Regions from separate parts of the Homo sapiens genome. Here region 1 is linked to region 2. The links come from fine-mapping of genetic effects on gene expression. Tissue or cell type: monocytes. Region 2 holds a variant in brackets; the other region holds the start of a gene. All regions are shown on one strand. Distances are from middle to middle.

Region 1 (2,760 bases), 75 kb after region 2:
TAGGATTAAACTTTTCTACTACTTTTAGAATTAGACAACACACACCCATATAAAGATGTCATGGCTGGAAATGACTGACCTTTTGTTTGAATCTAAGTATCATTCATGTCAAGACCGCATTGAAAATAATGCTGTTCTTAAGCCAGGCAAGTGTAGACGTTGTAGATTTCATAAAAGATTCACACTATTTCATGAATCACAACTTGAATCGACTTCTGTTAGCCTTCATTTTACGTCTAGGCCCTCATTTCTAATTCTTCCTCAGCTTCCATATTATCAAGATGTAAGATGCAATTGTGGACATGAACATAGAAACACAACCGCCTCACAGGTGTGGGGAAGGAATATAAAATAATTGTATTTTAGAGAACGACCATAAAGGAGATGGCAATTTTGAGAGAAAGTAACAGAACTGCAATGACCTAGTTTTGTGGTGTTAATTTAAATGTGGCATCTTCCATGAGAATTTTATAAAGGGAGCTCTCCTAAAACCGAGATTCACAAAAACCTGGAAGGGCCCTACAGGGATCAGGTGCCCTAGCTATTCAGCGATTTGCCTTTGCTTCCCTAATTCCTGCATTGTGCCACTGGGTTACAAGTGTGTGTGCGCATGCACACAGGGGTGTAGGTTTGATGACAGTGGTGAACTGCCTTGACTGCCTTCACAGGCTGAATCCCCCGCAGGCAGTAACCATGGCTAGGGAAAAACAGGCAGCCGCGAGGACAGTTCCGGAGGAGACAACACCAGGCTCCCGTAGGGAAACTTTTGGGAATGGAGATGGGGGATTCCATCCTTTGCGTGCAGACCCAAGACTTCGATGGTAGCTCGGACAAGTCTGTCATTGTTTTTGTCCTGGGAAATGACACACGAAGTGCTGTAATTAGACACCTAAGAAACGATTACTCTGGAGTGTGCGCGAACCGAATCTGGGGGGCCGGTGGGGAGCAGGTAAGGGGCTGAAAGGCACCGTCTCCTCCAGCTCTGTCGGAAGCCTAAAGCCCTCTGCTTCTGGGCGCCCTTAACAAACGCGCCAGACAGGTGATGTCTCCGAGGACGAGCAGGAGCCCCCCTTCGCGATCTGCACCAGAAGCCTCGGGGAGCCGGGGCCACGGCGCGGCGGTGGCGCAGTTCCCAGCCTGCGCCCAGTCCCGCCGCAGCTCCCGGCGCGGCCCGGTCATCCCGCCTCCATATGCTCCGCCACCGCCGCCCGGGCCTCCCTCAGCCCTCCCGCAGCTCCGCATTCCACGCTGCGGCAGCCGCAGCCTCGCCGCCTAGGCAGTCCACACCCCTCCCCTCGGGCTGGCGCAGCCACTCGGGCCCCGAGCCCGCGCCCCCTTGGGGGCCTCCGCTGGGCGCGCCGGCCGGACCCCGCCCGGCTTGGCCGCCGGCTGGGGCTGAGGCTCGGGCAGGGCGGGGGCGGGGAGTGGAGGGCGTGTGCGCGCGCGTGTGCCGGGGCCGGGGGGCCAGGCCGCCATATTGGATCCAGACTCGTCCGCAAGCCTCCGCCTCTGTGCGGCGGGACTGGAGGAGCCTCGCTGAGCCCAGGGCGCGAGCGCGAGAGGAGAGGGAAGGCGGGGGAGGGCTGGAAGGGAGAGGAAGGGAGTGGTTGGGAGCCGGGCTGCCGCAGCCTCTAGTCTCCTCAGCCGCGGAAGCGACCCCTCCTCCTGCGCCGGGCCGCCTCCCTCCTCGCTGTGGAAAGATGCCCTTAGCCCAGGGGTGTGAAGAAGGGGGAGAAGTAGCTGCCAGAGCCGCCCGCGCCGCCGCCGCAGCTGCTGCTGCTTGTGTCCTTTGAATTCAGAGAAGCACCCCCCCGCCTGGGGCGTCGGGAGCCTCCGGCGCGGCGGCCCGGTGCGGGTGTCGGGGAGACCGGGCTCTCTGCCCGGCGCGGCGCGGCGCGGCTCGGCCCACGAGCGACCACCGACATGGAGTGGGCTCGGGCGGCCAAGTAGCCGCTTCTCCGGAGCCCGGTGCCAGTGCCGCCCGCAGCCCGCCTTCCACCCCCGGCCGCGCCGCCGGTCAGGCCCTAGGGTGAAGCCGGGAGGAAAATGAAGAGTTTTCACCGGAATCCGTTGAAAATAGGACTGACTGCAAAGCCTTAAAGAAAGAAGGACCTCGGGAGGAGAAACGAAAAGCCGCCTCCGGGCAAGACTTGGCGTGCTCCGAGCCGAGGGGCTGCTTCAGGGACCTCGCCCCCTCCCTTTCCCGCTGGAGAAATTGCCGCTGATGCATTATCCAAGTGGTGGTTGGGAGGATTTGCAGCAACATTTTTGGTTTTCCCTCCCCCTTCTATGCATTCTGTTTTTTTCCTCCCTTTTCTGTTTTTCTTCTTCCCGGGAAGTGAATTGCTGATGCAAATCGGACTTTATTCATTAATGATGCAACCGGATTCGTTTCAGGATTACGTTGCACGAGTTGAATTTTGAATGAAGGAGAAGAGTTTTTTTTTTTTTTTTTAAAGAAGTGTTGACTCTCTAGTTCGTTGTACTTTTAATTATTATTTTATTTAAATATACGACTTAATTGTATTCTTTTAAAAATGCATTAAGTATATATTTTATGGTAATTTACCCTCAAAATATATGTATATGGGTGAAATTGAAGACGCTTCAGTTAAGTGAGGTTACTGGTGTGTTGGATGTTTAATTCAGCACCAGCATTGCATGACAGTTGTTTGAATAACAAGTGGTTTATTTTTAAAACCATACCTTTTAAAATTTAGGTTCAGATAATAGTAAAAGTCATCATAATAATTTAAAGGA
Region 2 (2,760 bases):
CCTGGCAACAGAGTGAGACTATGTCCCCCCCAAAAATATTAATTGAAATATTAATTGAATATTGATTGAATATTAATTGAATTATCACTACTTGAAGCCAGAGGCAAGGCAGGCTTCTCCTACTCTAGAAAGGAAAAAGAAGAGGAATATTTAATAATTTAGATGTTCTTAGAATATGGAATTGTTAAGTATGCAAGTTAACACTATGAGGACAACTACTAAAATAAATAAGATACCATGTCTGGCTCCTAAAGTAACAGCAGAAGAAAAAAGGACTATAGAAAATGTTTTCAACACAAGAGAAGGAAGGAAAAAGGAAAAAATAAGCAAAGAATGATAAACATAAGATGAAAAAATAAGAAAATTAAAAATAAGTTGAAACATTATCATTAGCCTCAGCAACCATAAACGTGTTAAACATTGACTTTCAAAAAGAGATTATCAGAATGATTTTTTTTTTCCAGACAGAGTCTCGCTCTGTCACACAGGTTGGAGTGCAATGGCATGATCTAGGCTCACTGCAACCTCCAGTCCATCAGGATCAAGCGATTCTTCTGCCTCAGCCTCCCAAGTAGCTGAGATTACAGGCACACGCCACCACACCTGTATTTTCAGTACAGACAGGGTTTCACTATGTTGGTCAGGCTGGTCTCAAACTCCTGACCTCAAGTGATTCACCCGCCTTGGCCTCCCAAGTGAGAATGAATTTTTTAAAACCCCAAATCCGTCCAGGCGTGGTGGCTAACACCTGTAATCCCAACACTTTGGGAAGACGAAGTGGGCAGATCACCAGAGGTCAGGAGTTCAAGACCAGAGACCAGCCTGGTCAACATGTTGAAACTCCGTCTCTACTAAAAATACAAAAATCAGCTGGGTGTGGTGACACATGCCTGTGGTCCCAGCTACTCAGGAGGCTGAGGCATGAGAATAGCGTGAACCCAGGAGGCGGAGGTTGCAGTGAGCCGAGATTGTGCCATTGCACTCCAGCCTGGGAGACAGGAGTGAAACGCCACCTCAAAAAAAAAAAAAAAAAA[AT/T]GCATTGAATACACCTAACTTACCAAACATCACAGCTTAGCTTAGCCTAAATTAAATGTGCTCAGAACACATACATTAGCCTACCATTGGACAAAACCATCTAATACAAAGCCTATTTTTCAATATCTTGTGTAATTTATTGAATACTGTACCGAAAGTGAAAAATTGAATAGTTGCATGGTTACTTGAAGTATAGTTTCTACTGAATTGCTTTTAAAGCATTGTATAGTTGAAAAATTGTAAGTTGAACCATCGTTATCAGTATAGGCAGGGCCGTGCTCCCTCTGAAGGTGCTAGGAAAGGAATTACTCCATGCCTCTCTCACAACTTCTGGCAGCTTCAGATGTTCCTCACCTTGTAGGTGCACCACTCCAAGCCTGTCTTTACATGATGTTTTCCCTGTGTGTCTTCACATCATCTTCCTCTGTGTCTATGTCTGTGTCCATATTTCCCTCTTCTTTTAAGGACACCAGTCTTGTTGGATTAGAGGCCCACCCTACTCCACTATGACCTCATCTGAACTTAGCTAATTGCATCTGCAATGACCCCGTTGCCAAATAAAGTCACATTCTGAAGTACTGGAGATTGAAACTTAAACCTATCTTTGGGCAGGGGGCACAATTTGACCCATAACAGAAGGAGGCATCAGTAAAAATAAGGGCAGAAAAGGCTGAAATAGAAACCAAAGTCATAAAATAGAGTAAATAAATACAAATGAAAGTTAGTTTTAAGAAAAAAATCCGGTTTGATTACCCAATCTTTAATAAGACTGATAAAGAAACAAAAGAGCACAAATAAACTATATTAGGAATCATAAAGAGATACAATTGCACCCACAGATATATAAAATCACAGATCATTGCACTATAAAAAAGAATACTTATTTATTTATTTATTTATTTATTTATTTATTATTTTTGGAGATGGAGTCTCATTCTGTTGCCCAGGCTGGGTGCAGTGGTGCCATCATAACTCACTGAAGCCTCGAAATCCCAGGCTCAAGCAATCTGCCTGCCTCAGTCTCCCAAGGAGCTGAAACTACAGGCATGTACTAGCATGCCTGGTCAATTTTTTAAAAATGTTTTTGGAGAGATGGGGTGGGGGGGCGGGTCTTACTATGTTGCCCAGGCTGGTCTTGAACTCCTGACCTCAAGCCATCCTTCCACCTCAGCCTCTCAAAGTTCTGGGATTACGGATGTGAGCCATCATGCCCAACCGATATTTATTTTTAAAGCAAATTCTACAGATCTTCGAGGGAATAGCACTTAAGACTATTTTTAAAACTTGGATGGGTAGGTGATCACATATCTCTATTTATAATAGCTATGTGTCTTCTCTTAGCTATATTGGATTTTTTTTTTTTTTTTTGAGACAGAGTCTCACTCTGTCACCCAAGCTGGAATGCGGTGGCGTGATCTCGGCTAACTGCAACCTCTGCCTCCCGGGTTCAAGCGATTCTCCTGCCTCAGCCTCCCATGTAGCTGGAATTACAGGCACCCGCCACGCCTGGCTAATTTTTGCAGTTTTAGTAGAAATGGAGTTTCACCATGTTGGCCAGGCTAGTCTCAAACCCCTGACCTCAGGTGATCCGTCCGCCTCACCCTCCCAAAGTGCTGGGATTACAGGCATGAGCCACTGCACCTGGCTATATTGGATCTTATTTTCAGGATTTTAGAGAAAAAAAGGAAGAACTAAGAAATGTGCCCTTAGCTAGTAGGAAGCTGT

Direction of the effects. Positions count from the first base shown, and alleles are read on the strand shown. Sizes are in standard deviations (SD) of each study's normalised expression.
For the expression in monocytes of the gene that starts at base 1,475 in region 1, AT is the low allele of the variant in region 2 and T is the other (moderate effect, 0.57 SD a copy in Quach 2016).

The links. PIP is the estimated chance that this variant, and not a neighbour inherited with it, causes the effect.
Region 1: it holds the start of CDC42BPA, and the variant in region 2 is fine-mapped to the expression of CDC42BPA in monocytes (Quach 2016, PIP 0.95).

What each region holds. Positions count from the first base shown.
Region 1 is chr1:227,317,207-227,319,966 of GRCh38, reverse strand. CDC42BPA (CDC42 binding protein kinase alpha) reads left to right here and starts at 1,475. Exons shown (of 37, transcript NM_001394014.1): 1 at 1,475-2,760. It overlaps LOC124904531 (a long non-coding RNA gene), which reads right to left and starts at 1,375. Exons shown (of 2, transcript XR_007066911.1): 1 at 969-1,375; 2 at 1-853.
Region 2 is chr1:227,392,334-227,395,093 of GRCh38, reverse strand. It overlaps LINC01641 (long intergenic non-protein coding RNA 1641), which reads right to left and starts at 1,540. Exons shown (of 4, transcript NR_187381.1): 1 at 1,390-1,540. The variant AT/T (reference allele first, on the strand shown) is at 1,035.